Homo sapiens: one gene and its partner. The protein of the gene in region 1 interacts with the protein of each later gene in a pairwise test. Each region holds a gene or a part of one and is shown in the gene's direction. Other genes may lie near its edges.

Region 1 (4,615 bases):
CCCTAGGAAGGCTGTCCCTGTCACCAGCTTCACCTACATCAATGAGGACTTCCGGACAGAGTCACCCCCCAGCCCAAGCAGTGATGTTGAGGATGCCCGAGAGCAGCGGGCACACAATGCCCACCTCCGCGGCCCACCACCAAAGCTCATCCCTGTCTCTGGAAAGCTGGAGAAGGTGAGGACCGGCTCTTCCTTGTGGGCCTGGGTAGAACGGGAGTCCTCGCTTGGGAAACTGGAATTTAGAAGCTTATATAGAGGAAAGAGTGTGGGCTCCAGATTCACCAGACCTGGGTCCTAATCCCAGCTCTCTCTCATTCTGGATGTGTGACCTCAGGGAAGTCACTTAACCTGAGCCTCAGTTTCTAGAACTGACATGAAGGTCAAATAATGTATAGCATAGTGCCTAGCACGTAGCATGTACGCAGTAAGTGCTAGTTGCTTACGTTCTGGTTATTCTGCACCAGTTATACGTTTGACTTTGGGCAAGGCCTTTAACCTTGCTGAGCCTCCATTTCCTCATCTGTAATATGGGGATAGTGATCATATTTAGATAATGGAGATAAACTTTTCAAATTGCTTGACACAAAGCTGACACTGGTGGCCACCTCCACCAGTGGCCGCAATTGTTATGAATATATGGGCACTGGGGACCCAAGACGGGAGGGCAGGGAGTGTCATAAGGGCTCTGCAAGATTGGGCAGCTCATCTCCAGTGTCACATGGCACCTCATTTCAGAACATGGAGAAGATCCTGATCCGCCCAACAGCCTTCAAGCCAGTGCTGCCCAAACCTCGAGGGGCTCCGTCCCTGCCTAGCTTCATGGGTCCTCGGGCCACCGGGCTGTCTGGGAGCCAGGGCAGCCTGACGCAGCTGTTTGGGGGCCCTGCCTCCTCCTCCTCCTCTTCCTCCTCCTCTTCAGCTGCTGACAAACCCCTGGCATTTAGTGGCTGGGCCAGTGGCTGCCCATCAGGGACGCTATCCGACTCTGGCCGAAACTCACTGTCCAGCCTGCCCACCTACAGCACCGGAGGTGCCGAGCCAACCACCAGCTCCCCAGGCGGGCACCTGCCTTCCCATGGCTCTGGGCGAGGGGCACTGCCTGGGCCAGCCCGAGGGGTCCCTACTGGGCCCTCCCACTCAGACAGTGGCCGGTCCTCCTCCAGCAAGAGCACAGGCTCCCTAGGGGGCCGTGTGGCTGGGGGGCTTTTGGGCAGTGGTACTCGGGCCTCCCCTGACAGCAGCTCCTGTGGGGAGCGCTCACCACCACCCCCGCCTCCACCTCCTTCGGATGAGGCCCTGCTGCACTGTGTCCTGGAAGGAAAGCTCCGAGACCGGGAGGCAGAGCTTCAGCAGCTGCGGGACAGTCTGGACGAGAATGAGGCTACCATGTGCCAGGTGTGGTCAGAGGCAATGATGGGGAAGGGGCATGGCAGGACATCCCAAGGCCCTGGGATGCAAGCGGCATTTCCATTTTGGCAGGGAACGGGGGTTGGGTAGTTGTAGTTGTGACCCCCCTGCCCTCCCCACCAGTTGTCTGGTTTAATGTGTGGAGTAGCCAGGTGTGGTGGCTCACATCTGTAATCCCAGCACTTTGGGAGGCCGAGGTGGGCGGATTGCTTGAGCTCGGGAGTTTGAGACCAACCTGGGTAACATGGGGAAACCCCATTTCTACTAAAAATAAATTAGCTAAGTGTGGTGGCATGTACCTGTAGTCCCAGCTACTTGGGAGGCTGAGGTGGGCGGATCACTGGAGCCCAGGAGGAGGAGGTTACAATGGACTGACATTCCACCATTGCACTCCAGCCTGGGCGACAGAGCAAGACTCTATCTCAAAACAAAAAACAAAACTTGTGGGGTGGAAAGGAGTCAGAGTGCATGGATTCAAACCTCCCACTGCCAAATACTAGTTTTTGGGCTTGAGCAAGTTGCTTAACTTTACTCAGCCTTTATTTCTTCATCTATATAGGGATATTTCTAGCTTCGTAGGATTATTATGAGGATTAAATAAGGCAAAAGGTGTAAAGTGATTAGACTAATGCCTGGTACCTAGGAAGTGCTATATAAATGCTTGCCTTTTTTAAAATTTTTTATTATTTTTTATTTTTAGTAGAGACAGGGTTTCCACCATGTTGGCCAAGCTGGTCGCGAACCCCTGGCCTCAAGTGATTCACCTGCCTCGGCCTCCCAAAGTGCTGGGATTACAGGCGTGAGCCACTGCACCCGGCCAAGTGCTTGCTTTTTTTATTTTTTGAGACAAGGTCTCATTCTGTCACCCAGGCTAGAGAGCAGTGGCGTGATTTCAGCTCCCTGTAGCCTCAACCCCCTGGGCTCAAGCAGTCCTCTCACCCCAGCCTCCCAAGTAGCTGAGACTACAGGCGCATGCCACCACACCAAGCTAATTTTTGGTCTTTGGAGAGGCAGGGTTTTGCTGTGTTGCCTAGGCTGGTCTCGAACTCCGGAGCTTAAGTGATCCACCCACCTCGCGTGAGCCACCGAGCCCGGTCTGCTTGCTCTTGTGTTTGTTTCTATGATCATCATAAAAGCAGTTAGTATTGTTGTTGCAATTACTATTGTTGTTTAATGGAATCCACCCTTCCTGAGCCCTCGGAAGTGGGCTGCCAGAGCAGACACTGAGTGGGGAGTTGGGAAAACTGCCCAGGAGCCAGGTCTCTCTTCTCGCCTGCAGGCATACGAGGAGCGGCAGCGGCACTGGCAGCGAGAGCGTGAGGCCCTGCGAGAGGACTGTGCGGCCCAGGCACAGCGGGCACAGCGGGCCCAACAGCTGCTGCAGCTGCAGGTGTTCCAGCTGCAGCAGGAGAAGCGGCAATTGCAGGACGACTTCGCACAGCTGCTGCAGGAGCGCGAACAGCTGGAGCGGCGCTGCGCCACCTTGGAGCGGGAGCAGCGGGAGCTCGGGCCGAGGCTTGAGGAGACCAAGTGGGAGGTGGGCCAGACCAGGAGGGGCAGGGAGCAGGGTCACACAGGGAGAAACCCTGGAAAAAGGGGCCCAGCCCCACCCTCCCTCAGCCTGCCACCCCCAGAGGTCCTCCCCTTTCTCACCTCCGTGAGATGAGGTTCCCCTCTGTCCCTTTCTGGGAGGGGGGTCTCCTTGTTGGCCTTGTCTAGTGGCACGTAGCCACGCTTCCAGCCAGTAGTAAGAATGTGGTGCTTGTGGTGTGGAGGCACTATTCTAAGCATGTTACATGGAACAGATCATTTCATCCTTATAACAACACTGAGGGGGCTACCATTAGTCTCCCCATTTTAGAGATGAGTAAACTGAGGCCCATAAAGGCTGAAGCCCCAAATCTGAACCCAGGCAGTCTGGCTCCAATATCTGAGCTCTTAACTAGGTCACTGTAGTACCTCTCCAGCAGGCACCTGGGCACTGCCCTCCATTGTCCCCACTCCTGCAGCACTTGCCAGGACCCAGTCCCCAGTCCCCAGTCCCCAGGGCTTGGTGGTACTTGCAGTGTCTTGTGATGCTTTGAAGACACCAGCTTTGAAGCAAAAAGTTCTAGGTCTGCTTTCCACTTAAGCCCCATCTTAACTGTATGACCTTGGACATGTCACTAGACTTGCTTTAGTGTCTCCATCTGTAAAATGGGGATAAAGATGGACTCTTCTCTCCCAAATGCCCAGCATGATGTGCAGGGCCTGTCCCCCCAGGAGAACCTGTCTCACCATCCTTCCCCACTTCCTCCCACCCCCAGGTGTGCCAGAAATCAGGCGAGATCTCCCTGCTGAAGCAGCAGCTGAAAGAGTCTCAGGCAGAGCTGGTGCAGAAGGGCAGCGAGCTGGTGGCTCTGCGGGTGGCGCTGCGGGAGGCCCGTGCTACGCTGCGGGTCAGTGAGGGCCGTGCGCGGGGTCTACAGGAGGCCGCCCGAGCTCGGGAGCTGGAGCTGGAAGCCTGTTCCCAGGAGCTGCAGCGACACCGCCAGGAAGCTGAGCAGCTGCGGGAGAAAGCTGGGCAGTTGGATGCTGAGGCGGCCGGACTCCGGGAGCCCCCTGTGCCACCTGCCACCGCTGACCCATTCCTCCTGGCAGAGAGTGATGAGGCCAAAGTGCAGCGGGCAGCAGCCGGGGTTGGGGGCAGCTTGCGGGCCCAGGTGGAGCGATTGCGGGTGGAGCTGCAGCGGGAGCGGCGGCGGGGTGAGGAGCAGCGGGACAGCTTTGAGGGGGAGCGGCTGGCCTGGCAGGCAGAGAAGGAGCAGGTGATCCGCTACCAGAAGCAGCTGCAGCACAACTACATCCAGATGTACCGGCGCAACCGGCAGCTAGAGCAGGAGCTGCAGCAGCTCAGCCTGGAGCTGGAGGCCCGGGAGCTCGCTGACCTGGGCCTGGCCGAGCAGGCCCCCTGCATCTGCCTGGAGGAGATCACTGCTACTGAGATCTAGGGCCCTCAGCAACCAGCTCTGTAGGGAGCTCTGCCAGAGGGGCAGCAGCTGCAGATCCACTTAGGCCCCAGGGTCCACGGATGGCCCCAAAGGCTGAGGGCCCCAAAGCCACTTGTCTCCTAGGATCCAGGCCTCTGGGCTTCTGCCAAGAACTCAGGGTGGCCCTATGACTTGGAGGAGCAAGATCAGACCGCTCAAAGGTCCCCGTGTTCACTGTT
Region 2 (4,948 bases), on another chromosome or scaffold:
ACAGAGGTAAGCTACCACACCCCAGCCTACTCCAGTTTTCTTAGTCTCATTTTTCTTCGTCTATAATGTTGGAACTATTCAAAAACAAGCTGGGTGCAGTGGTACACACCTGTAGTTCCAGCTACTTGGGAGGCTGATGTGGGAGGATCTTCTGGGCCCGGGAGTTTGAGGCCAGCCTATGCAACATAGCAAGACCCCACCTCTTACAAAAAGAAAAAGAAAAAAAAGGAGAGAGGGAGAGAAAGAGAGAGAGAGAGCACTCTCTACAAATAAGGAGATTGGCATGGGAGTATCACCTACAAGGACATGGCTTCAACCAACCTATATTCATTAATATTCCTATATTCATTAATAACTTAATTCCAGGTTTGCTTGCATTAAATCATGGGAGTCTCACACTGAAATTCTTCCAGTTCATGGAGAGGAAGATGGTGACTGTGGTGAATATGTCTGACATGTAGGACTCCTGTTTAATTGCAGCTGAAGAAGATGCAATAGCATTTGTTTTTCTTCTGCTGATCTCAGAAGGGGAGAAATTTCTTCCTTCCACACAATACATTTTGTTCATGTGACATGTTAGGATATGATTTTATTGTATTGATTTTTAAATCTCATTATAAGTCACTAAACAAGACTCAGGCAGAAAAGGTGAGCCTGAGAGACTGTGATTGTGAAGCAATGAATGTGAGCTCTGGCATTGACTCAGTAGTTTCTTAAATGTGTATTTGAATTAATCACGTGACCTTTTGGTTTTCTCACTTACCAAATGCTGGAGTTGAAGTACAGGATCTTACAGTTTCTTCTGAGACTAGAACTCTCATTCTGTGTTTCACTGAGGTCAATAGTAATAGGAATTAATACTATTAGTAATTTTCTTCAATATAATAGTAATTTTTTTCTATTATTCCTGGGCTTTTTACCTGAGATTTTGATTACTAAGGAAAAAAATGTTTTAAGGAAATTAGAGAGGAAGTTACTGACTTTAGGAAAAGTGGTGATTTTCCTGACCAAGCTGTGGCTGTGTAATACATTTGTATATACAGAATAGTCTCTTCAAAAGCACCTTGTGTGCCTGTGTTTGCTGTGGTTATATTTGATTTTGATTTCCAGGATAAATTTTAGTTCCTTATTTACATGTTAAGGGTGAGTAAATGAGGAATGGCCAATCACTTTAGTTTACAAAACATATTGCTAGGATCGGAGCGCAGACTTGGCCACAGTCCTGAATGATTTTAACGTAGCTTCAAGCCTGAGCAAGTTATTATCTCTGGGCTGAAGGTTGGCTAGAAAGGCAATCATGTTTTTTGATTTTGTATGATGAATCTTTGTAACCAAAGGCTAATAGAAACTATGTGTCATTGCCTTTCATTTGTTCTTAACAGAGGACATGGATTTCAAGCTTATTGGATTTAAGCATTTGCTGATTCACCTTTAAATCATTTCTCTTTTTTGTGTCTTTTTTTTTTTTTCCTACAGGATGTTTTCACTCCAGAATGCAAATTCAAGGAATCTGTGTTTGAAAACTACTATGTGATCTATTCTTCCACACTGTACCGCCAGCAAGAATCAGGCCGAGCTTGGTTTCTGGGACTCAATAAAGAAGGTCAAATTATGAAGGGGAACAGAGTGAAGAAAACCAAGCCCTCATCACATTTTGTACCGAAACCTATTGAAGGTATGAAACCAACTGACTGTCTTTGTTGGACCCTTATCTGTGTGTTGACATCAATTCTGCTTCTTGCCCTTTTGGTCCAGAGAGTTTGCCTGGAATGCAACAGATCAGAAGAAAGATTCAAAAGAAATATTCAGAGAACACAATAGTATCTCTTCCTTTTTTTTTTTTTTTTTCTTTTGAGGCAGAGTCTTGCTCTGTCGCCCACACTAGAATGCAATGGCTCAGTCTCGGCTCACTGCAACCTCCTCCCGGATTCGAGCAATTCTCCTGCCTCAGCCTCCGTAGTAGCTGGGAATCTTTTCCTATTAAAAAAAAAAAAAAGGAAAATTCTATTACAAATACTTGGCACTTAAAAAAAATGCCTGAATATAGAAGCCGGAAAAATTTTGAAAGTAGAAAAGAAGTGGTAGTTACTATCTAGTATGCAGTTTCCTCCTTTTCTAAACCTAATAATTTCCTTTCTCAAGATACACCCTTGAAAAACAAATGATACTTTTATATTTACCGTATTGCACTGTATCCTTCTCAGGTGAGCCTATAACCTTTTCTCTCGTAATCATTTAATTCTCTGTTCATTTATTTCAAACTGACCATTAGAATAAACTTTTTTGTTTTTTTTTTTCTGAGGAAACCGATTTTTGGCAGCTAGGCTATGTTCCCTCAGAAATTCCTTAGCTAGGATGAGAGCATATCATTTGGGTAACCACATTTCCTGAATTCAGCCAAGCTTTCTACTACAGGCTGAGTAAGCTTGTTTCTCCTCTGAAAGTCACATTATAATCACTTTAAACATTGGCTCAGCATCCTCGTCTGAGGAAATGAGAAAATTGAGGCAGTGCATTGCAACTCTGTGGCTTAGTCAAGCTTGCTGTCCCCTGAATATCTCATATGGCATGGTCAGTCAATCAGTGTACACAATGCCTGGTGCATAGTACATAGCACGGTGACTGCAAACATTTAAGTCAATACTATCTTCCAATGTTCCAAGCACTGGATGAAATGTGATATTCAAAGCCCCTAGCCCCTCTCAGGACCCTCTTCACATGCTGTGTATTCAGCACATGAAATGAACTTTTCTTTCCTGCAGTATATTTTCACTTTATTTATTTATTTATTTGAGATGGAGTCTTGCTCTGTCACCCAGGCTGGAGTGCGGTGGTGCAATCTCGGCTCACTGCAGCCTCTGCCCCCTGGGTTCCAGCGATTCTCCTTCTTCAGCCTCCTGGGTAGCTGGGATTACAGGCACACACCACCACACCCGGCTAATTTTTGTATTTTTAGTAGAGACAGGATTTCGCCATGTTGGCCAGGCTGGTCTCAAACTCCTGACCTCAGGTTATCTGCCCACCTCGGCCTCCCAAAGTGCTGGGATTACAAGCGTGAGCCACCATGCCTGGCCTATTTTCATTCTTATTGGGCTCATTTTGTTCATCACCCCTGCTCCTTTAGTTTTTATCCATTTATCTCATCTGCCTGGAAAATGTCTATTAGTCTTTGGAAAAAAATAATTCAAGAGTCAATACTTCCATGATGGCCTTCTTGACTTTCTTCAAGTAGAACTAAACATTCGGTCAGCTTGTCATTGCATACATTTCTCTCCCATAGAAATTATGACATTAAATTTGCCCAATGCCACTCTGTCTCCTCTTATTCATGGTTAGCTCACTCTTTGAATGAACAGAACATGTTTTATTTTTCTTCATATCTCCCTTTGTCTTCTATAATAGTTGGCATATCATAGAGAGATATTTGATAATCAGTTGTCTGAAAAGTGAACATGTGAATGAATTAATGAATAGAAAACTATAAAGACAAAGAAGAATATATGCGCCAGAGAACTTTATGATATTCTTAGAGGTGTGACATATGTTTACTCAGAGCAAAAGTAAAATGTTAAGTGATGCAATATATAGGATTTATATTGGGACTCAGAGAAAAAGGCTATTATTTTCCCAAAAAGTAAGATATCATTGAGAAGCTAATATTTAAACTTACCTTCAGGGCTAGGCCAGGTTCCTGCAATTTGAGATGAGAGGTAGGGATTAGGCAGACAAAAACATTCCAGGTGCAGTGTGAATAAAGGCAGGAAAGTGCCTGCTTCTTAGGGTTAAGCAAAGGGTACCTGAGAAGTAAGTAATATTTTCACAGGGAAATATATGGATTCTCAAAAATGAAATGTTTGATGAATTATGCTCTTAATTATTGCATCATTTTTATTTGTTCATTTACATTGATTTTCTTCTTGTTATAAAAGTAGTACAAGGTCATTAACAATTTTGGAAAATTTAGGAAAGTATGAAGAAAAGAAATCCACGTGTTGTGTTTATTCCCTTTACGGATAATGCCCTTTATATTCAACTTCACCCTCATGACCCCACTTAAAAATACACCTAGGCCAGGCTTGGTGGCTCACGCCTGTAATCCCAGGACTTTGGGAGACCGAGGTGGGCGGATCACGAGGTCAGGAGTTTGAGATCAGCCTGACCAACATGGTGAAACCCCGTCTCTACTAAAAATACAAAAATTAACCGGGCGTGGTGGCACGTGCCGGTAATCCCAGCTACTCAGGAGACTGAGGCAGGAGAATCAAGGAGGTGGAGATTGCAGTGAGCTGAGATCACGCCACTGCACTCCAGCCTGGGTGATAAAGCAAGATTCTTTCTCAAAAAAAAAAAAAAAAAAAAATTTTATATATATATATATATATATATATATATATATATATACCTATAACCTACCCTCCTAATTTTAGCTGCTATCTGTACTTTGGTTAATCAAGTTTCCTCTTGGGTCTGGATGAGCATGTACGTGTACAACTGGACATTCCTATATGGATTAGAATTAAGGTTGTCTTCACACAACACAAACTCATATTAACAGCAGCTTAATCATATAAAGTTTTTTATTCTCTCACAAAACAAATCTAGAGACCAGCTATCCTAGCTGGTACTGTGCTTTTCCAATTGGTAGGGCCTTGGCTGCATCCAGCTTTTACTACCTCTCTCCCAGTGTTTTGCTACGGCTTATTTACAACTGTGCACTGCACCCGGAACACAACCACACATGCTGGCCCTGGATCTGCCCTTCTGCCCATGATCCAACCAGCATCTTATTCCAGCCAGAGGGCAGAGGAGAGGTGAAGAAGACAGAAGGAAAAGCCAGGGCCAGTTTTCTTTCCAAGTTGTCCATGGTAACTGCCATATGCTACTTATCGCACTGGCCACAACCTAGTCAGGTAGTCACACTTAGGTGTAAAGAAGCTAAGAATGTAGT

What was found. The genes of interacting proteins can lie anywhere in the genome.
Region 2: the proteins of LZTS2 (region 1) and FGF12 interact in binary tests that used the Homo sapiens proteins (3 or more experiments, as listed by UniProt).

What each region holds. Positions count from the first base shown.
Region 1 is NC_000010.11:101,002,772-101,007,386, forward strand, and holds part of LZTS2 (leucine zipper putative tumor suppressor 2), read left to right. Parts: coding exon 1-175; intron 176-735; coding exon 736-1,395; coding exon of another isoform or gene 1,396-1,497; exon of another isoform or gene 1,498-1,705; intron 1,706-2,686; coding exon 2,687-2,944; intron 2,945-3,713; coding exon 3,714-4,397; 3' UTR 4,398-4,615. UniProt on the Homo sapiens protein: Negative regulator of katanin-mediated microtubule severing and release from the centrosome. Required for central spindle formation and the completion of cytokinesis.
Region 2 is NC_000003.12:192,167,185-192,172,132, reverse strand, and holds part of FGF12 (fibroblast growth factor 12), read left to right. Parts: intron 1-1,476; coding exon 1,477-1,675; intron 1,676-4,948. UniProt on the Homo sapiens protein: Involved in nervous system development and function. Involved in the positive regulation of voltage-gated sodium channel activity. Promotes neuronal excitability by elevating the voltage dependence of neuronal sodium channel SCN8A fast inactivation.